3 linked regions of the Homo sapiens genome follow. The protein of the gene in region 2 interacts with the protein of the main gene of each other region in a pairwise test. Each region holds a gene or a part of one and is shown on either strand. Other genes may lie near its edges. The genes, in order: L3MBTL4, NINL and KAT7.

What was found.
Region 1: the proteins of NINL (region 2) and L3MBTL4 interact in binary tests that used the Homo sapiens proteins (3 or more experiments, as listed by UniProt).
Region 3: the proteins of NINL (region 2) and KAT7 interact in a two-hybrid assay, tested with the Homo sapiens proteins (2 studies listed by BioGRID and IntAct).

Annotation. Positions count from the first base shown.
Region 1 is NC_000018.10:6,411,833-6,419,898, forward strand, and holds the start of L3MBTL4 (lethal(3)malignant brain tumor-like protein 4), read right to left. Parts: upstream 3,080-8,066; 5' UTR 2,969-3,079; exon of another isoform or gene 2,876-2,968; intron 2,785-2,875; exon of another isoform or gene 2,128-2,784; intron 1-2,127. UniProt on the Homo sapiens protein: Putative Polycomb group (PcG) protein. PcG proteins maintain the transcriptionally repressive state of genes, probably via a modification of chromatin, rendering it heritably changed in its expressibility.
Region 2 is NC_000020.11:25,575,419-25,582,572, reverse strand, and holds part of NINL (ninein-like protein), read left to right. Parts: intron 1-7,154. UniProt on the Homo sapiens protein: Involved in the microtubule organization in interphase cells. Overexpression induces the fragmentation of the Golgi, and causes lysosomes to disperse toward the cell periphery; it also interferes with mitotic spindle assembly.
Region 3 is NC_000017.11:49,783,944-49,791,680, reverse strand, and holds the start of KAT7 (histone acetyltransferase KAT7), read right to left. Parts: upstream 3,001-7,737; 5' UTR 2,847-3,000; coding exon 2,832-2,846; intron 2,619-2,831; exon of another isoform or gene 2,571-2,618; intron 1-2,570. UniProt on the Homo sapiens protein: Catalytic subunit of histone acetyltransferase HBO1 complexes, which specifically mediate acetylation of histone H3 at 'Lys-14' (H3K14ac), thereby regulating various processes, such as gene transcription, protein ubiquitination, immune regulation, stem cell pluripotent and self-renewal maintenance and embryonic development.

The sequences.
Region 1 (8,066 bases), on a different chromosome or scaffold from region 2:
AGTGGTTTTCTGTTGTTTAAGGATGAGCCAAATGATATGTTTAGTTTTTCACAACGCAAAATCATTTTGCTTTTACCAAAATATATTTCCTATAATATATTAATACATGATATAAGCATTACTAAAATAATATTTTAGTAGAGTAATTTGATAAATGCATTGTTTTAACTTTTCTTTTCAGTTAGGGTACGTGTGCAGGTTGGTTACATAGGTAAACTTGTTTCCTGGGGGTTTGTTGTACAGATTATTTCATCACCCAGGTATTAAGCCTAGTATCCATTAGTTATTCTTCCTGATCCCCTCCCTCCTCCCATCCTTCGATAGGTCCCAGTGTATGTTGTTCCCCTTTATGTGTCCATGTGTGCTTATCATTTTGTTCCCACTTGTAAGTGAGAACGTGCAGTCTTTGGTTTTCTCAATCCAGTGTTGTATAAATGGAATTTATCCTTTCCACCCTGCCTCCAGCCCACCAAACCTACCTCTCCTGCTCACTCCCCCACTTCACCAGCAGCAGCATTCTTTCTTAATTATAATAATTAACTGAAAGAATGAACACTTATCTAATGGCGATTTTCAGACCCTCCTTCGGCTCTCTGGAGAACAGAAAACTTAACCCACTTGAAGGAGTGATGGGGGGAGGAGGGATTGAAGCTTCTGCTTCCTTGGTCAGACTGGGTGCTGGTGCTTCCTACGCAGCCTCCTGGAAGTGGCTTTCAGGTTGGCCTTTTCTTCATAGGAAGAACTCGAGGGCTTTCCATCAGCAAATCTTCCTTCAGAGTCAGCCTGATCTCCCTCACTGTTGCTTTTATCACCTCCTGCCTCTGCTCAGCAGTTGTCTGCTCACATACGGACTCGGTCCTACGAGTATTTGTTGAGCATGCACTTACCCACGTGCCAAGTCCCATGCCAAGCAAAGGAGGCTTATTACCACCAAAAAGGAGTAAGAAGTGTCGTTTAAGATATAAACCACACAGGTACTGTAATGAAGTTATACAGATGTTACAGAGCACCTAAGATTCTTATGAGAACTTTAAAATATGCAAGCTTACTTCTCTTTAAAGTGAAAGTTAAATGAGTTTCCGTCTCTACAAAAAAAAAAAAATTAGAAAATTAGCCAGGCATGGTGGTGCACAGCTACCCTCCCAGTCAATAGGCTGAGGCGGGATCCTTTGAGCCCAGGAGGTTAAGGCTGCAGTGAGCCATGATGGTACCACTGCACTTCAGCCTGGGTGACAGAGTGAGACCCTATCTCTAAAAAATAAAAATAAAATGTTTAAAAAGTGAAAGTTAACACAGTTCCTTCACTTTCATTACCTCTGTCTTCACCAGATCACCTTCCCACCAATACCCTTTCTTTGGAAACTGAGTGAGAGCACACTGCAGAGGTTAACCAAGCTGAACATTTCTTGTGACCCCAATATTGTACAGCAAAGTGCTAAGTGATTCTGCAGTCAAGGGTTACATGCAATACATCCTCAATGTTGCCTCACATCTAAGAGCATAATTAATAGCAGTTTTATGTTCATCTTCCTTCCTACTCAACCATTACACACCAAGTCAGTGTAGTCGAATCCAATCCCTTTGGATACTCCAAGAAAAAAACCTCTCCTCTTTCAACCGTTTCTCCTAATTCTGTAGTAATATAAGGAATGCATTCCAAGTTTTTAATATTACCAAGGGCCAAAAACAACTCTACTGTACCCACCACCTGTTTGTCACCTTAACCTTTTTAGGTGGAATAGATTAGAAAACCGAAGAGCCACACTACACTTATTTCAGCCAAGGACTGAAACTGGAGCCTGCCACAAGCATCTTCTAGAACAGCTCCAACAGAAGGATCCAGGAGATGGGCCACCAGCAAGTCATAGTGGAGTCCAAACAAGTGTGAAGTGAGAGCGAGTCTTCAGCATGGGAATGGCCGAGTGGGTCGTGGTGACCAGCTGCCTTCCTCTGACTGTTAAGTACAGCAGTCTCAACAGTAACAATGACCAGGCCTTCCCTTTATTTAGTTCCACCTCGGGGCATTGGCGCATTAAGAATGTCCCTCTAAAGGCATATGTAAGATAAAGCACACTTCGCACTTTAACCAGTGACTAAGGGAGATCAAAAGCAGGGGACAATACCCACCCGGAATTTGCGACCTCGCGAAAACGCTCTCACCAATCCCGCAGGTAAGTGCGGCGCTGGCCCAGGTGTGCCCAGCTCGACTCGCGTCCACCTGGGACCAAGCGGGCCCAAGAAGGCCCGGAGAGCAGGCGAGGGCGACTGTGGCCGGCGCGCCCCCCGCAGTTCCAGGCGGTGGCAGGAGCCTGAGAGCCGCCGTCCCAGGCTGGCCAGGCGCCCGCCCGCCCTGCGCGCACTCCCTGGGCTCCCGCTCCCGAGGCTGGGCAGAACTCGCAGAGGAAGACAAGGGCAGAAAGCGGGTGGAGGGAGGCAGCGCTCGCCCGTCCGGGCACACGACACTTGTCGGCTGAGGGGGACACGCGGGCAGACGGGGGCGTTAGCCCCAGAGGAAACAAAAGCCAAATGCCCACCGCCGGGCGCTCGATGGCCGGAGGACTGCCTGGGGGCCCTCAGGAGTCCCGTCCCGTCCCGCTCCCCCGGTCCCAGGCTGCGCTGGCTCCAGGGCGCCCAGGTAGCCGCGCCTGGCACCCCGACCCTGCCCTCGCGGCTGACCGAGGCGCCGGGCTCTGCGGCGGCCGCGCCCGTCCAAAGTAGGCGACAAGTGAGGCAGCGCCTCTCGCGGGGAGCCCGGCGCGCGCCCCGGCGGCGAAAGAGAAAGAGAAAGAGCCTGGGCCGGGACCGGGGCTATCCCCAACCGCCACCGCCCCCACCGGCCCGGCCCTCGCCGCGGGAGTCGTGCAGGCCCCTCTACCTGCCCGGGGATGGGGCCACCCCGCGCGGCGGCGGCCGTGGGCACCCACGCGGGCTCGCGACCATCCCACGCGGGCGGCGGCGTCCTTCTTACCCCCAGCGGAGCGGCGCCTGCCCGCAACGCCGACCGAGCTACAGGCGGGGGGCGAGTCGGAGCGCGAGGTTCCGCCAGCCCAGGCTGCGGCGCCGCTGCCCCGCGGTGCCCGGCGGGAGGGGCGCGAGGGTGCACGCGCGGGGTGGGGGCGCGGGAGCCGCCCCCTGCCCGCCCCGCGCGCATGCTCCCGCCGCACCTGCCTCGCTCAGTGTTCCACACCCCGGGGAGCCGGGTGGCGCTGGGCCCGCCGAGGTCGGGGCTTTCCCATGGGAGGGAGGTGGCTGCGGCGGAATTTTCAGATGCGTCCTTCTCTGTATTCGTTCCCTGGGAAGGATTCCCCCAAATCTTGGCTACTTCCTGCCTGCCAGCTTGCTCCCTGGCAGCGAAGTCCCAGTAGCTCACCCATGCTTCATCCCAGCTCTTGGGGTTCACCGTCTGAAGGCTCTCTCCTCCGGATCCCTCTCGGTCCTGCTGCTCGCTCCGATTTTGCAACCTCCCCCACTCCCCTTTCCTGCTCTTGACTTTGCTACTCACGAGTACCTGGATACCATTTCCAAATAAAAGAATACTCTTTCCAAGTGGCAAGCAGTGTTTACTGACCCTGTTCTAACTGCTTGGAATTGAGCAGGAAACAGGAGCTGGGTAGATCCTGCCCTCATGGAACTTATGGCCTTACTGGCTAGCTTTGGCCTTTCTCAAAGCATTGTCTCCCAGTTTGGGAGGACTGTATTAAATCATTTATTTTGGCTTACAAATAAAGGTAGCTGATAATTGAAGACTATATGTTGTGACTTTTGAATGAAATGTTCTTTCATAGGACGCCTTGTGTATAAACCCTAGTATGCAAATAATAAATAGTAGGTACTAAATAAGTATTAGTTTGTTGCTTTCAGCAGGAAATTGAATCATTTAGCAGGATTAACAATGATACCATCCAAAATGATCTTTTTGGTTTGTCGTGGGCTACCATAAACAGAGAATGAAAACTTGCTTTTTAGGTGAGACTGGGCATTGTTGAAACATAATTTCGTGTCCTTACTGAAAAGAGAAATATAAACCCCTTTGCTAATGAAGTTTTTAAACTAGGAACAATGATCATAGAAATTTGTAAGTGCAAACACACGATTTGTGTTCTGTGCTCTAGTCAGTTAAGAAAAATATATTAGCCAGGTATGGCGGCTCACATCTGTAATCCCAGCACTTTGGGAGGCCGAAGAGGGCGGATCACTTGAGGTCAGGAGTTCGAGACCAGCCTGGCCAACATGGTGAAACCCTGTCTCTACTAAAAATACGAAATTAGCTGGGTGTGGTGGCGGGCGCCTGTAATCTCAACTACTCGGGAGGCTGAGACACTAGAATCGCTTGAACCTGGGAGGCAGAGGCTCCAGTGAGCTGAGATAGTACCACTGCACTCCAGCCTGGGCAACAGAGCGAAACTCCAACTCAAAAAAAAAAAAAAGAAGAAGAAAAAGAAAAACAAAAAGAAAAAGATATTAGAGACAAAGAGAAAAAGAAAGAAGTAGAAGACCTCAGTAGCGAGAGGAAAACATTTGAAACTCAGTTCCAACCAATTTTAACATTGTGCTAAGGACTTACAGTGTTGCATTACTGTGACAATGGGCATGCCTGCAGGTACCACCTTTGGTTGGATACTTGTTCACCAGATTGGATGAAATTAGAACGGGACTCAGCAGGTGAGAGTTCCACCTCCCTGCTACTCACAGGAACACGGATACCATTTTTGGTGAAGGATAAAGTGCTTCAATTATTGCAGTGTATCCCCAGTCCATCCCAGAGGTATTTATTTATCATTGGAGATTCTAGGTATTAGTAATAGAGATATCAAAATGTCCCCAGCACAGAAAGAGTTAAGTGCACTTCTGGTTCCAGGAGCCCTTCAGAAAAGTGAATATTGATGTTATAATATATGAAATCAAAGAAGAAAGCTGGATTGAAATCCAAATAAAGTGAATTTACATCAGCTTATCTTCACTTCTTGGGGGGAAACAATTGTTTTTATAACATGTTTATTGACTATATTTGGTTTAAGTTTATGAAAGCAGACACACTGTTTTCAGGGGCTGGGTTTACATAAGGAAAAGGATACACCAATGAAACAAGTTGAAACAGGCAGGAAACCTCATCTACAGCTACTTAAATGTAAGTGCATAGGTGCATAGTGCTGACAACATATGATTCTGTTCAGAGAAGCTGACATCTGTCTTAAACTACACTGTTATTCAAATTTTATGGAAATATAAGCAGGAACGCATTAGTACACTTCTTACAAAATTTTTGAAAGCTGTTGTAGTAAATCCCTTTTATCTGAACGGCTGCAGATTAAAATGAAATAGCCATATTGTTGATTTTTATAACTTTGCTAATGATCCATCATGAGCAAAGGGGTTTATAGCATTGGTAGTTGCTAGGCATTTTACTTTTATAATTCAGTTGAATCCAACCAACTCTCAATGCAAAGTTGACCAGATAGACAAGGATGGTTTATTGTTAAGATAGAAATTTCTGATGGCATGATACAGAGAACCCCTTTCTGGAGGTCATCAAAACATAACAGGCACAGCAGTCCTATAATGTGTCCATCTATTGTCAATGAAAATGAAACTTTCCACCTGCTAAGATAGTGACTGGTTTTATCCAAGGAACTCTCCATTTTAAAAACTTCGCTAAACTTGTTTACATTTTTCTGGCTGGTTGTGTATGTTTCTTTTCTTTACTTTTCTTTTTTGAGACAGGATCTTGCTCTGTCACCCAGGCTAGAGTGCAGTGGTATGATCATGGCTCACTGTAGCCCCCACCTCCCAAGCTCAACTGATCCTCCCACCTCAGCCTCCAGAGAAGCTGGGACCACAGGCATGTGCCACCACTTCTGGCTAATTTTTTAAATTTTTTTGTAGCGATGGAGGTCTCACTGTATTGCCTAGGCTGGTCTCAAATTGCTGGGGTCAAGCAATCCTCCCCGCTTAACCTCCCAAAGTGCTGGCATTACAGTCATGAGCCACAAGGCCTGGCCTATATTTCTTTTCTAAGTAGGATTAAATTACATTGCTTTATTATTTGATCAATAGCAGGATTGGCTCTTGGTAGCAGTGTGGGTTTTTTCTGTGTTTTTTTGAGACAAGGTCTCGCTTTATCACCCAGGCTGGAGTGCACTGGTGCCACCACAGCTCACTGCAGCCTTGACCTCTGGGCTCAGGTGATCCTCCTGCCTCAGCCTCCTGGGTAGCTGGGACCACAGGTGTACAGCACTATGCCTGGCTAATTTTTAAACTATTTGTAGAGATGGGGTTTAATATGTTTTTAAGACTTGAGATTGTTTCTTAGCATATATTTTGAATATGACCATTTGGGAGAATTTAACACAGAGTGAATTTCTTTATATGCTTTGGTATAACTGAGGAGAAGTTATCTTAACAGAATTCTATACTTGCTTGGACAAGCAAATTTTCCACAGCAACCAAAAATATTTCATTAGTCACTATCTTCAACAACTATTATCATCAAGTTTATTTTCATGTTAATGCCACTGTTAATAATTTTCTATGTTACAGTTGTGTTTTCCTACATGGATGGTCCAATATTAAGCTTCCTTTAGTGGGTCGAGGTATAAATAATTGCATAGCATACTATTTAAATGTAAATACTGGTTCAGAAAGAAGTGTAAATTATATTGAATAATTAAAAATAATTTTATTTATTTATTTACTTTGGTAGAGATAGAGTCTTACTGTTTTGCCCAGGCTGGTCTTGAAATCCTGGCCTCAAGCCACCCTCCGGCCTTGGCCTCCCAAAGTATTGAGATTACAGACATGAGCCACCATGCCCAGTCTAAAACCAATTTTAAATAAATGATATCATAAAGCTTTATAAATAAGATAATATGCACATTATGTGATTTTGAACAAATGACTTAAAATCTATATAGAAATCTACTTACTTGTACATTTGTGCTTTCTTTTAGTTGAACAAAGTTATCAAAAAGTAGCTTAAAAATACTCCCTTCAGGTCTACTTCCTTGAATTTTTAAAAATCCAACATAGACATAATTTTTCTGATGATGCTTAGAGTCTGTATAAACTGAACAAGATAAGAATCCTCTTGTCAATAAAAAAAAAAAAAGCTTCACTTCCCACTACAACCAATACCGAATAAGCTAATGGCATTTAAAGAAAGGCATGAAAACTCCAGAAGGAAAAATAGCAGTCTCTTTAATCCTATTTTCATAGTTATTGATGGTACAACCATGCTATCTCAAAGTCAAAGATCTGGAAGAAGAAAACCTGAAAATTTGATGATGGGAATTCTTGAATAGCAATATGCCCCCATTAACTGTAGCTAGACACAAATTCTCTTAAAAATAGCAGGTAGTATAATACAGACATACCTCGGAAATATTACCAGTCTGGTTCCAGACCACCACAATAAAATGAATATAGCATGAAGGAAATCACACAAATTTTTTGGTTTCCCAATACATATAAAAGTGGAGTTTAATAGGCATGGGCAAGGACTTCATGTCTAAAACACCAAAAGCAATGGCAACAAAAGACAAAATTGACAAATGGGATCTAATTAAACTAAAGAGCTTCTGCACAGCAAAAGAAACTACCACCAGAGTGAACAGGCAACCTACAAAATGGGAGAAAATTTTCGCAACCTACTTATCTGACAAACGGCTAATATCCAGAATCTACAATGAACTCCAACAAATTTACAAGAAAAAAACAAACAACCCCATCAAAAAGTGGGCAAAGGACATGAACAGACACTTCTCAAAAGAAGACATTTATGCAGCCAAAAAACACATGAAAAAATGCTCATCATCACTGGCCATCAGAGAAATGCAAATCAAAACCACAATGAGATACCATCTCACACCAGTTAGAATGGCAATCATTAAAAAGTCAGGAAACAACAGGTGCTGGAGAGGATGTGGAGAAATAGGAACACTTTTACACTGTTGGTGGGACTGTAAACTAGTTCAACCATTGTGGAAGTCAGTGTGACGATTCCTCAGGGATCTAGAACTGGAAATACCATTTGACCCAGCCATCCCATTACTGGGTATATACCCAAAGGA
Region 2 (7,154 bases):
TTCAGGTGCAATAAAAATTAGAGGATAACTCTTTTTTGTAGAATGAGAAAATAGCAAGCCTTCTCCAAGGAACTTGGACTTCAGATTTTTTCTTTTTAATGTAGAGCCGGGAGTCTTGCCCAGGGTGGTCTCCAACTCCTGGGCTGAAGTGATCCACCTGCCTCAGCCTCCCAAAATGCTGGGATTACAGGTATGAGCCACCACACCTGACCTCAGATAACATTTAACTCCATCAAATTGGAAAGAAAGCACTTTATAGAGGAATAGTTAGGACTTAAGCAAAAAGTTTTGTTTTTTGTTTGTTTGTTTGTTTGTTTTTGATATGGAGTCTCGCTCTGTCGCCAGGCTGGAGTGCAGTGGCGCGATCTCGGCTCACTGCTACCTCCACCTCCCAGGTTCAAGTGATTCCCCTGCCTCAGCCTCCTGAGTAGCTGGGATTATAGGAGTACACCACCATGCCCAGCTAATTTTTTTATTTTAGTAGAGACGGGGTTTCACCATGTTGGCCAGGATGGTCTCCATCTCCTGACCTCGTGATCCACCCCGCTCGGCCTCCCAAGGTGCTGGGATTACAGGCGTGAGCCACCACGCCTGGCCGGACTTGAGCAAAATTTAATTGAGCAGTTTATATTAACTTCAATGGAAACTTTTTCGCTAACTCATACTTATCCCATATGTTGTGATTTATAGGACTGCTCTAAGGTGGGTGAATTGATATGGTCATTTGCTAAGAGCATGTTGTAAGTCTTTTAATGTTTGGGTATCCTTTGAACATTTGGTGATGGAAAATAGAATAACAAGAATGGCAAAGTTCCAACAGTGTCTGTAGCTTCCCCTTTTACAGTGAGTTCAAGTTCCTTGGAGAAGGCTTGCTATTTTCTCATTCTACAAAAAAGAGTTATCCGCTAATTTTTATTGCACCTGAACTTTACATAAACACACATATCCCACTTTTATTTGCCAATACAGATCAATTCAATCTGTCATCATTTAAACCACTAATGACTCTTTTTAAGTTTTTTAGAAGATGGCACATGTGGCATTTGAGACTTAGAGCATGTGAGCGGGGCTCTGTGAGCACATTCTTTCTATGGTGGACATTTACCTTTGGATTTTTTTTTTTTTTAAACTGAGAAGGAGTCTCGCTCTGTCACCCAGGTTGGAGTGCAGTGGCACAATCTTGGCTCACTGCAATCTCTGCCTCCCGGGTTCAAGCGATTCTCTTGTCTCAGCTTCCTGAGTAGCTGGGATTATATGTGCCTGACCACGCTCAGCTAATTTTTGTATTTTTAGTAGAGACAGAGTTTCGCCATGTTGGCCAGGCTGGTCTCAAACTCCTGACCTCAAATGATCCACCTGCCTTGGCTTCCCAAAGCGATGATGGGATTGCGGGCGTGAGCCACTGCACCCAGCCTACTTTTGGATCTTGCCATGAGCAGGTAGCTACTAGATAGCTTTCCTCTTTCCTGGCACAAGACAGATTTGGAAGCAGGAAGCAAAAACAGGAGCAGTGTCTTGGCCTCACACCTGAACTGGCATGGCTTCCTAGCTGCAGGTAATAGCGTCCTCTGCCCTGGAAGGCATTTCCAGCGCTGTGGCCACTTTGCTGTTCCATTCCTTGGTTATTGTGTAAGTAGTTAAGCCGCGGTGGCTGTAACTGGAATCTAGGTTTGAGTTTAGCTTAGTCCTTGGCTTCAAGTGCAGATTAGGAATTCAGGCCCAAGGCCAAGACATTTGGTTACTCACAAGCTGAGGCCAAAAGTTTGGGTCATACTCTACCTGGAGCTATTTGGAGGCAGGCTTTCCTTCTCCCACCTTGGGGCAACTTTGAGCCTCCTGGATTCTGATTATTGTTGTTTGTGAATGGACAGACAATTTTCTGGGACAGAGGAGTCTTTTAGAGCATGGCTTGTATTTTCATCCTTTTTTGACCTAGGTTCAAGCATGCATCTGGCGCTGCCTGGTTGTACTTCCCTTTCTGAACCCGATTGTCTTTCCTTGGACTTCAGAAAGATAATGGAGCCTTCCATCATCCTCCAAGCGAGGTGACCCGTTTCCCTCAAGACTGCTGTATAGTCTCCCTGGAGTCGAAGTCATTTGTTAGTTTCTGAAACAGGAGAGCTCTCTAGGTACCTCTGAAGCAATCAAGTTTGAGAACCTCTAGGATATACCAATTTTTGTGCATTGATTGTTACTTTGTATCTCATAAGGGGCAATCATTACATTTTTTTTTTTTTTTTAGGTGGAGTCTCACTCTGTTGCCCAGGCTGGAGTGCCATGGCGCAATCTTGGCTCACGGCAACCTCTGCCTGCTGGGTTCAAGCAATTCTCCTGTCTTAGCCTCCTGAGTAGCTGGGATTATAGGTGTCCACCTCCACGCCCAACTAATTTTTGTATTTTTTAGTAGAGACGGGGTTTCACCACGTTGTCTACGCTGGTCTCGAACTCCTGACCTCAGGTGATCCACCCGCCTCGGCCTCCCAAAGTGCTGGGATTACAGGCTTGAGCCACCATGCCCAGCCCACACATCTTCTTATAACCTTATTTTTGGATCTGCTTTGTTGAGTAAAGTAACAATTTTGGTTTGTTGGAGTTTCTAAGAGTGGTCAGAGACCTGAGGGGCAATCACTCTTCAAAATCTCTCAGTTTTTAAGCCTCTGGTAAAGAATTTTACATTTGTAGAGTATATCAGTTAGGATATTTTAGCCACTAGTGTTGGAAAACCCAACTCAGTCTGGCTTAAATAAACAGGGAGTTCACCGAAGACCTCAGGATGGGCTGCTCCATTGTTGAAGTGGCCCTGAGGGACGCAGGTGGCTTCTCTTCTGCACACAGCCTCTCACATCCATGGAGAGAGGGAGCTTGGCTTCTGTGGCTTCTGTGCCTCTCTGAAGAATGAGGAGTGACAGCTGGTGCCCCCAGCCAGGGTAGTGGAGTCCTGGGCCATTTGAACCAGTCACCAGGAGGCCTCCCCCGGCTGTCTCCAGAGGCAGGGTGGCGTGGGGGTGTGGGGACAGGAAGGACAGGCTTTTGGGTGCCTGGTCCGTGGGGGCTGTGTGAGCCTCACCATAAGGTAGCGTGTCACCTGTGCCCAGTCCCCGTGCATGACTTGTGCACTGGTTGTGGCTGCCAGAAATGGAGCTCAGGTCTCCTGGTGTTTTGTTTTTAAATTTTGAATGAGCATTCAGTAGGTGCCAGGCACTGTTCTCAGTGTTTTTGTTAAATTCTTTCACGGAGTACTCATAGCAGGAGGCTGAGCCGGGGTGTACTGTTGCCCCCATCTCACACACAGAGAGTGCGAGGGTCAGAGAGGATAATAACATACTCAGGGTCACATGGAGGTCAGGGGTGCTCCGGTCTGGAGAGGCTCTGCAAATTCCATGTCCCCTGCTGTGCCTCCCAACACAGTGGGGTTTCCAACATCCCTTACTGCCTCCGAGGGACTATATCATTTCTTTACCTTAACAAGAAGATGAGGTATTTTCAGTGCTAGAGAAAAGCTGTGACTTATGTGATCCTGTCTACACATGCTGGTTGAGAAGCAGTATGAGGACTGTTAGCTCAAAGTCCCATTTTTATTTTATTTATTTATGTTTTAGAGACAGGGTTTCACTGTGTTGCCTGGCTTGACTTGAACTCCTGGGTTCAAGCATTCTCCCACCTCAGCCTCCCAAGTAGCTGGGACTACAGGCATGTGCATGACTCCATTTAATTTAATTTAATTTAATTTTGCTTGAGCTTTACTGCTTGATCAAATTCCTTTTTTTTTTTTTTTTTTTGGAGATGGAGTCTCGCTCTGTCACCCAGGCTAGAGTGGTAGTGGGCGATCTCCGCTCACTGCAAGCTCCACCTCCCAGGTTCACGCCATTCTCCTGCCTCAGCCTCCTGAGTAGCTGGGACTACATGCGCCCGCCACCATGCCCGGCTAATTTTTTCTATTTTTAGTAGAGACGGGGTTTCACCGTGTTAGCCAGGATGGTCTCGGTCTCCTGACCTCATGATCCACCTGCCTCAGCCTCCCAAAGTGCTGGGATTACAGGTATGAACCACTGCGCCCAGCTAATCAAATTCCATTTTTAAGCAAGAGTATTAAGGACTTAATGAATTGTGCTTTGCTTTTTGTGGCTTTGTGTGCGTGTGTGCGCCCATGGAAATAACATTTCAGGGCCGGGCGAGGTGGCTTATACCTGTAATCGCAGCACTTTGGGAGATTGAGGCGGGCAGATCACTTGAGGTCAGGAATTTGAGACCAGCCTGACCAACATGGTGAATCCCCGTCTCTACCAAAAATAGAAAAATTAGCCAGGTGTGGTGGGGCACACCTGTAATCCCAGCTACGCCAGAGGCTGACATGGAAGAATCGCTTGATCCTGGGAGGCGGAGGTTGCAGTGAGCCAAGATTGCGCTACTGCACTCCATGGGCGCCAGAGTGAGATTCCGTCTAAAAAAAAAAAAAATCACGCCTGTAATCCCAGCACTTTGGGAGGCCGAGGCAGGCAGATCACCTGAGGTTGAGAGTTCAAGACCAGCCTGACCAACGTGGAAAAACCCCATCTCTACTAAAAATACAAAATTAGCCAGGTGTGGTGGTACATGCCTGTAATCCCAGCTACTCCATAGGCTGAGGCAGGAGAATCTCTTGAACCTGCGAGGTGGAGATTGCAGTGAGCCGAGATCGCGCCATTGCATTCCAGCCTGGGCAACGAGAGTGAAACTCCATCTCAAAAAAAAAAAAAAGAAAAGAAAAGAAAATATTTCAGAAAAATGAGTCTGTTCCTGGGACTAGGACAGTAGTAAGCCCCGAGCTTCTGCTGGCCCCACACAAAGAGGGGTGGTGGGCTCCCCCGCCAGGATGGACCTCACAGGAGCTCTATTCACAAAGAGGACCTCCAGGTTCCCCTTAGAGTCATGGGTGGTGTCAGACCCTAAACATGAGAACCAGCATCAGTCAATATAGTGCAATATTCACTAACTTGGAGTTTTCGTTTCAAGGGCATAGGAATGTAGTAAACAGCTATTAATTATTTAAAAATCAACAGGGAGAGTCTGCTCGGTGCAGATTTTGAGTAGGTTGTCCCAACCCCAGGGAGAGCTCCTTGTATCTGGAAGGCCTCTGCCTGTCCTGTACTCAAGTGACCTGAGGAGGGATGTGCTGGACTGTCCGGCCACGTGGCCTTGGGACTTCCAGCCATGCTCGGGAGGAGGACAAAACCAGGCAGGCAGAAGTGGGTAGCGTGCCAGGTCTCCAACACAGGAGAGGCGGCAGGGCCTTGAACAGACTTGGGGACGCGTGTCTCCATGTGGACCAGTGAGTAAAACTGAGTACCCACGGTCCTGGGATGACCAGCAGGGACTCCAGAGGGCGGGCTGCAGCCCGGCCAGTTAGCTCCCTGCTTCAGGCAACGTTGTCACTGCTCTCCAAGGCCCCAAATGAAGGTAAGTGACAGGCTGAGATTTTCCCCAACTCTGGGTAGGGACAGAAACGTGGATGCCCAATTTCGGAACCCCACAATCTACATTAATGGCCTGTACTGATTTCTGGTACGGTTCCTCAGGAAACTGTGTCAAGCAGGATGTTTGCAGGGGCAGGTCTGAAGTGGACACAGTCCACAGCCTGCATAGTTCAAGACCAGCCAGGCCTTGCTCTGTGGCAAAAGTTTTAAACTGTACTTGATAGTGTACACTGTTGCACAGCTTTAAAGCGAAGCAATTCTTGATACATTTTAAATTCTTACTGAATTTTTATTATTTCCAACTGTGCACATAAAGTAAGACTCTTATCATTGTAGACTTTCACCACTTAAAATTCTCAGGCTGGCACGGTGGCACATGCATGTAATCCCAGAACTTTGGGAGGCTGAGGTGAGAGGATCTCTTGAGTTCAGGAGTTCGAGACCAACCTGGGCAATGTACTGAAACCCCATCTCTACCAAAAAAAAATGAAAAATTAGCTAGGCACAGTGGCATGTGCCTGTGGTTCAAGCTACTTGAGAAGCTGAGGTAGGAGGATCACTTGAGCACGGGAAGTGGAGGCTACAGTGAGTGGGGATGCACCACCGCACTCCAGCCTGGGTAACAGAGCAAGATCTTGTCTCAAAAAAGTAAAATAAAATAAAAATGAATAAACTTCTCATAATTCAAACTCACATAAAGGTGACTACCCTGCTGCAGTCACCATGCTAACCAAGCGATTGCAGTTACTGTCACCAGTTATGAGACATCTGTGCCCCCCATGAGATGTGCCAAGGACACACCTGACCCAGGTGTTCCTGCCACCCTTGAATCTAATTGTGCAGACACCAGACAGACTCTGGGACATTCTACATAACGCCCTGCCTGTGTCTACTCCAAAGACTTCAAAGTTCAGAAACAGAGACTGAGAAAATGGTCTGGTTTAAAGGGACAGGAAAACCGTGTACAGTGCTTGTCTCTGAATTGGAAACTGGACTGGGGTGAAAAAGATAGCTGTAAAGGACATTGTTGGCACCATGGACAGAATTTGATCTGAATGGTGGATTGTATAAATGTCAAATTTCCCTAGTTTGTTGTACTGTGACTGTCTCCTTGAGCTTAGTGAATACATTTTGAACTATTTAGGGATACAGGGGCACAAAGTCTGATACCCGATTTCAAATGGAGAAGGAGAGGAGCAGGGGTAGATAGATGATATGGAGGGAGGGAGGAAGTGAGGGAGAGAAAATGACAAAATGGTTGTGGTAAAGGGGAAAAGTGGAAACAGGTGGTGAAGCCAGCCGAGTGAGGGAGTATTGGAGAATTTTTTGTACTATTCTTACAAGTTTTTTTTTTTGTTGTTTTGTGTTTTTTTTGAGACTGAGTACTTGCTCTGTCGCCCAGGCTGGATGGCGCGATCTCGGCTCACTGCAACCTTTGCCTCCTGGGTTCCAACAATTCTCCTGCCTCAGCCTCCTGAGTAACTGGGATTACAGGCCCACGCCACCATGCCCAGCTAATTTTTTACTTTTTAGTAGAGACGGGGTTTCACCATGTTGGCCGAGCTGGTCTCGAATTCCTGACCTCATGATCCATCCACCTTGCCCTCCCAAAGTGCTGGGATTACAGGCGCAAGCCACCACACCTGGCCTATTCTTTTTTTTTTTTTTTTTTTGAGACGGAGTCTCGCTCTGTTGCCCAGG
Region 3 (7,737 bases), on a different chromosome or scaffold from region 2:
TTTTGTTAAATAAATGAAGAGCTTCCGTTTCATTCGCTCTCATTGCCCAGGCTGGAGTGCAAGGGCGCAATCGTGGCTCACTGCAACCTCCGCCTCCCGGGTTCAAGTGATTCTCCTGCCTCAGCCTCCCGAGTAGCTGGGACTACAGGCGCCCGCCACCATGCCCAGCTAATTTTTGTATTTTTAGTAGAGACGGGGTTTCACTATGTTGGCCAGGCTGGTCTTGAACACCTGACCTCAGGTGATCCACCCGCCTTGGCCTCCCAAAGTGCTGGGATTACAGACGTGAGCCACCACACCCGGCCATGAAGAGAATTAATTCTTACTGTATTAGTACTAAGTATTAACCAAGACCATTTGGAGATCAATATCACAAAAAAAGGTCCACTGTAGTGAGAAAATCGTTGGTGCTGGACCTCATTTAACTTAGAGTAGCTTTTGTTCAATGTCTCCATGAAAAGCTATCACATTTTTTAAAAACCATACACTATCTCAAAATATCATGGACCACAACTCTAATCCCAAAAGAATTTAAGCAGAAAAAGATGAAAATTGTTAGTGCGTATGCCATCTATCCTTGACGTTTCTCCACATGAAAGCCATCTATCTTCCAAAAAGGCAGCTTGCACATGAAGACTCATGGGTATTCAAAAACAGTTGTTTTCAAAACCATCTTTTCAATGAGCAAGGATTTGTCAATTATTATCCTCCTGAGGAGTTCTTTCTTAGCCATAAAGATAACTTTTATCAATTAAGCACTAACACTATACCCTTTACAAAACCAGAAAGGAAAAAATATTTACTGAAAACAATACAAAGATTCACACTGTAAGTCCCAATTATTTATTCAAAACCCTGAGGGCCAGTTGTGTTTAGAATTTGTAATTGTTTTGGATTTTTAGAAGGGGAGTACTTTGCATGTATCCTGCAAATACCACCCAATAACAAAACATAATAGTATTTCTGCAGCAAAAAATATAAACAGTCACACTAAATGAGACACACAAAAACCATAAGTAGCCTCAGGACAGATTAAGACAGGTTTGCCGCCAAACAGGTTACTAAAAAAATGTACATTTTCAAGTAACTCCCGGTATTTGGGAAATTAAGAAAGAGGACTGTGGCCCTATTTCAAGGCACCAATATTATTCCTGCATTTGGTGAGCCTTTACATACATACCACCGGCCGGGCGTGGTGGCTCATGCCTGTAATCCCAGTACTTTGGGAGGCCGAGGCGGGTGGATCACCTGAGGTCAGGAGTTCGAAACCACCCTGACCAACATGGTGAAATCCCGTCTCTATTAAACATACAAAAATTAGCTGGGCGTCATGGAATCCGCCTGTAATCCCAGCTACTAGAGAGACTGAGGCAGGAGAATCGCTTGAACCCGGGAGGCGGAGGTTGCAGTGAGCCAACATCACGCCATCGCACTCCGACCTGGGCAACAAGAGCAAAACCTCGTCTCAAAAACAAACAAACAAAAAAACACATACATACCACCCACCAGCTGAGGTCATTTTAGGAGACATTAAAAAGTGTACATTTTCAACCTGAAAAGCCGCTGTGAAGAGAAAGATTTCTATTGATATGAGCAAGAATACCACCCAGTTTTCCAAGTATCTTAAGGGTAACCTGCCAGGAAATGAGCAAGAATCACAGAAAACGGCTGAAATGAAGGGGGAATCTTAAAAGTCACCATTATAGTCTAATTACCGAGATATTTAAAGCCTTGACGTGAGACTTATTCCTTCCTGGCTTGATCCTGGAACTCAGCTCTTCTCTGTGGCTTTTACCAATATATCTCCCATTGTACTCCAGGGCAGACTTAACTGCTCCTTCACTTCCTTCCAGCAACACCTTGTATACACCTCCAAGCTGAGAACTTACTAGATCCTTCTAAGATTATTCATGTCTGTTTTCTCCTATCGGGCTGTGACACCCTTAAGCCAGGGATCACATCTAATTAATTTCTGAATCCACAGCAACCACCGCGCAGAAAGTAGTCAATAGACATTTGTTGAATTGAGTTAGATTTGTTCTATATTCTGGATCTGCCACTGCCTGAGTGGCTTGCGGCACTCCATGGGCCTCCGTTAGTTCAGCTGTAAGAAGAAACGACGGGGCCATTCCTGGGTGATCTTCTAAGTGCCTTCTAATTCTAGAAGTTTTTAGTTTTTACCAACTGCATTTTCTAGGCGCTGTCGAACTAGCAAATAAGGAAAGAGGCAACTGGCCTGAGAGGGATCCCCTGCGAGTGGGCGCTGGCTTCCCACCACCCAGTCTTCTGCTTTGTTGTGCCCCTCACCTGGAAGGTAACGAGGCCTCCAAAACCCCGCCTCTGCACCTATCAGCGTCCCCGCTCGGAAAGGCGGGGATTCGGGCCACCCAATCGAGGTCCGCCTAAGCCGCGCCCCCACAGGACAGACTGCCAACCTCGACCAATCAGGAGAGGAGGGATCGTTCTCTCCAGCCAGTGGGAGAGCGCTGGGGCCGGGGCCAGACACCGCCCCCGCACGCGGGGAGGTGACCGTTGAGCCCAAACAGGCGGCGTCACCAGCCAATCAATATGCTTCCAGACGTTTCAGCGACCAATTAATAAGAACGCCTCCGATCCAGGCAAGCAGAGGGCGGGAATAGTTGCAAGCATAGGCCGAGGCCAGGGTCGGGCCCACATTTTTCTGTTGGGTATGGACAGAAGAGAGGGTAGCTGAACAAGGTTCGGGGGAGCGGAAAGTTGGGACCCAAGCACTGTGAGGCGTGGCCAACTGCGTCACGGTGCTCAATCGACTGTCCTTAGAAACCCGCCATCCCTCCTCTCCCGTTTCTCACCTTCCTTCGCGGCATTGCCGGCGGCTGCGGCCCGACGGTTCCGATTCGGGCAGCGGCGGCAGCAGCAGGAACGGTGGCTCCGGCGGGCTCCGTGGCGGCCTCTGTATCAGTCCCAATCCTGCGGACGATCCCTAGTGCCTCCTGCCTCTCAGCGTCTGGAGCGTTCTGCGCAGGCGCCGCGGGCTGAAGCGCTTTTTCCTTCACTTCCGGCTGGGTCTCGCGTCACCTGACGTTACGGGCCAGAGAGGGTGCTGGGAAGTTCGATCCTTTTGGTGAAGCTAGTGGGCGCCATTTTGAAGTTGGGCAGAAAGTGACTCCAGTGGTGGAACCCGGAGCCAACCATTTTTAGTTACGTGAGTGGCTCTGTTTGTGGGCGTGGGTAGCCATTCTTGTTTGGGGCAGAAGCCTGACAGTTGATGTAAACGGTTCTCATCTTTACCTTGGGCAAAATTTCGTTTTAATTTCTAGAGTCGAGGAAGGAAACCCCCCAGAATCCATCAGGTTGCTGAGATTAGATTTAACCCCTTCGTAGCCTGATTGTTTAAAGGACGTTTCCGTTTATTATATAAACTCAAAGTTGCGGAGGGATGTTTTGTAAAAGAAACTTTGTATTTTAAGAAACATCGTGGTCTCGAAGGGGTGGGAATGGGGAATTGAAAAAGGAACTAACGGATAGCGTCCGCCATCAAGTTTCCTGTCTGGTAGAGGAGACATTGTCCTTGCCCTTAGCTAACAGCAAGTGAGTTAGTTGATGTCGCGGGGAGGAGGCAAAACCATTCTCCAGAAGCTGCAGGTCAAATAATTCCCAATTTAGCTCTGTGGCGAGTGCCCACTTCCTAACCGCACTGTGTTTGGGTTTGAGACCACTGGGGGCCCTGGGGTGAAAAATGTGATTTGAAAGTGGGGAATGCAGTACCAGAGTCAGAAAAGCTTTGAACCCCATTTAGCTCAAATGACCTCTGGCATCCAGATGCTTGAGCAGAGAGTTACGAGGCGGAGGAAGAGGAAGGAATGTTTTTAGTGAAGTTGAAGCCCCCAAAAGAATGGACATTTAAATAATAATGAGAGGGCCTAGGAAGGAGAAGTTGGTCACAGATACTAGGCTGAAAGAAGAGCCTTAAGAAAAGGCTGGAAAGTGGAGAGCAGGCGTTGAGGATTTAACCTCTCCGGAGGAAAGGCCTTGAGAGGACCAAGTCTTGACCAATTGCGACTGGGTGGAACCCAGGCACGCTCAGTCATTAAGTTAGGATCCCGAACCCCAATTTCAAACTGAGGCCCCGTTAAGATGGAGATTTCCCCCAGGAGCAGGGCTAAAGAACAAAGAAGCAGAAGGTAAATATCTGATTGATGTGCTAAGTAAAGAACTCTAAAGATTTAAAGTTCCAGACCTTTAGCCAGCACTCTCCTTGGGGATGTCCTGGGCCAGTGTTGACACAGGCAGCTTTTAGTATTTAATACTTAGCTTTTAGTGCTTAGTATAAATACCTTTGATAACCTACTTAGGTTGAACTGCACGTAAGAACTTATTTGAAAATGGTTCACATTACTTCTCACCACTTAAGCATTTAATTTCATGTAGCCCCTCACCACTTAAGCATTTAATTTCATACATTACTCTGTTATTTTGCACTCACGGATATGTTCCTGAGGTTACATTTGAATGTTCTGGCTCCCCAACTGGTGGTAAGGATCTCTTACATTAAGAGCATATCTCAGTTATTTCATACCATCCTACTTTTTTTCTCTCTCTTCTTTTTTTTTCTTTCAAGACAGAGTCTTGCTGTGTTGCCCAGGCTGGAGTGCAATGGCTGGATGTCAGTTCACTGCAAGCTCCACCTCGTGGGCTCAAGGGATTCTCTTGCCTCAGCCTCCCGAGTAGCTGGGACTGCAGGCGTGTGCCACCACACCTGGCTAATTTTTGTATTTTTTGTAGAGACAGAGTTTCACCATGCTGCCCAGGCTGGTCTCGACCTACTGAGCTGAACTACTGTCTCGGCCTTCCAGAGTGCTGGGATTAAGGTGTGAGCCACCACTCCCAGCCATACCAGCCTTTCTTTTTTTTTTTTTTTTTCTGAGACAGGGTTTTGCTCTTGTTGCCAGGCTGGAGGGCAATGGCACGAGCTCGGCTCACCGCAGCCTCCGCCTCCCGGGTTCAGGCGATTCTCCTGCCTCAACCTCCCGAGTAGCTGAGATTACAGGCGCCCGCCACCACATGTGGCTACTTTTTGTATTTTTAGTAGAGACAGTGTTTCTCCATGTTGGTCAGGTTGGTCTTGAACTCCTGACCTCAGGTGATCCACCCGCCTCAGCCTCCCAAAGTGCTGGGATTACAGGTGTGAGCCACTGCGCCTGGCTCATACCATCCTTTCCAATGGTGCTCAAACCTCGTTCTTCCCACAGTAAATGCTTGCTACTCAGTAAGAATATCATTACTGTTTTACAGTCTCTGAATGTATAGCGCTCAGAGATGGTGAAGTTATCCTCCCTGGAAATTAGTGTTTTAGAATAAGATCTTATCCTGACTTGCATCCGTCACACAAATACCAGCATTACAGATGTTCGACGTTAGTTAATTTCTTATGCTAGATTCCCTAAGACTGCAGCTGACACTAAAGAGTTTACAGTTTCATTTAGATATGGTTCTTGTCCTTGGAAAGTGTACACTCTGGCAGAAAGATGAAAAAACTAACACCAGTAGGATAGAAACATGATCATAAGGAAAAAAATGTGTATAGTACTTGAAAGTAGACCAGCCAGGTATATTTAGAATGGGGAAGGGGAGGATCTTAAAAGCTTATTTCTTCTTCTTTTTTTAAAAAACCAAATATAATATTTACTTTGAGAGTCATGTTCATCACAACACAATTAGCTTTCCAAGCAGGAACTGATGTTGATTTCAATGCCTCTGACTGGTTGCCCCCTGGCTATCCTCAATCACCAGACTTCACGTTGACACTCTCGACAGTTCTCCTTGCCTTTCTATTTTCTCAGGCTTTTCTTCCTGCCTGGATGCATCTCCTAACCCTCAATAAAATTTTATTTTTTCAGAAAATCTTTTCCAATTCATTCTTTGTAAGGTAGTAGGGCGTAATGATATGTTATTTTGCACTTAACTGCTGGATTTGTTATTTTCCTTGTACAATTTGGTAGATAATTCTGTTCATTTCCCTTCCCAAACAGATAATAGAAACATAGATAAATCATGTTTATTGTATCATCAGCTGTACTAGTGTCCAGTACAGGGCTTTGATGTCAGATCTGAATTTTAATCTCCGCTCTGCTGCTTCCTACCTGCATTACTCTTGGACAAGTTTTTGTTTTTGTTTTTTGTTTTTTAAGAGACAGTGTCTCACTCTTGTCACCCAGTCTGGAGTGCAGTGGCACAATCATAGCTCACTGCAACCTTGATCTCCTGGGCCAAGCGATCCTCCCACGTCAGCCTCCCGAGTAGCTAGGACTACAGGTACACACCACCATGCCTGGCTAATTTTTAAATTATTTGTAGAGATGAGGTCTTGCTACATTGCCCAGACTAGTCTCGAACTCCTGGCCTCAAGCCATCCTCCCATCTGAGCCTCCCAAAGCACTGGGATTACAGGCATGAGCCATGCCCGGCCTTGGACAAGTTTTAAATTTGTTTGTGTCTCAGTTTTCTCACCTGTGATGTGGGGACATTAATAGCCACCTCACAAGGTTGTAAGGAATAAAGAAGATGAGTGTTGTAAAGCTCTTTGCACAGTTCCTGACATGGAGTAATTGCTCAATAAATGGCTATTGTTATTTATATTTCCAGTCACTCTAATCATGGCTATAACATTCTAATGTTAGTGACTATATATTTACATGGTCTCAGTGATTGTTTGCTTTTATCTGTTCAACCTCTTTAACTCTGTTCAACCTCTGTTCAACCACTTTAACTGAAGACATACAGAGTGATTACCCAGGCATTAATCACCCAGGTACCAGGCACTGAGTTATACCCCATGGACAAAACACCAACTTTCCCCTAAAGGAGCTTAGAATCCAGTAGGGAAGACAAGCCAGTGAGCACACACTTACAAAACACTGTAGAGTATTACATGGGAAAATAGGGAGATAAGCAAGGTTCAGAAGTGCTACAGAGGAGGAGGTAGAGTGTTTCATCTGGAAAGTTTAGGAAAGGATTCATAAAAGACGTGAAGCAAGAGTGGAATTTCACAGGATGAATGTTTGCCAGTAAACAAGGACAATATAAGGGTTTTCCATGCAAAGAAAACAGAATGTGCAATAGTAGAGAGGTGTGGAGGAGCATTATCTATGGGTGCCGGGGAGGGTACATAAGAGGCATGGTTTTGGGAACCAGTTCATGCAGAGTGTTCAGCACCCTTCTGTGGAGACTGAACTGGAAGTGGTAGGCAATTTCTGAAAGTCCTTAAGCAGAGGAGGCCGCCAGTCAGACATGCATTTTAGCAATCTCTTTCTGGCAGCTGTGAAGGGCACTGATCAGAGTAGGAGGGAGACCCAAGGCAGGAGACCAGTTAGAAGGCTGCTGAAATAGCCTTAGCCAGAGACAAGGAGAGACTGAAATAGGCACTGGGAGTGGGGGCAATCTTTTGTGTGTATGTGCTTGTGTTATTTCCTTACTTGTATCAGTCTCTTGCCTCCTCAGTTTTGTAAGCTGCCTAAAAGATCCCTTGATGTCCTTTAAAGTGTTTCCTTGACAGTAAAATTATAGGTACCATATTTCAAATACAAAATGTAGTTGTTCATTGTTTGCTTCTTCCAGAGGTTAGGAGCCTTGCCTGGATGGCCACAGCATCTCCAGCTTCTCCCTTGCTGACTGGCACCCAAAAGGGCTTAGTAATTGGGGTGGCACCAAATTGAATGTTTCTCACCCCACTGCCAGTTGTTGACTCAGCTAGGAAAG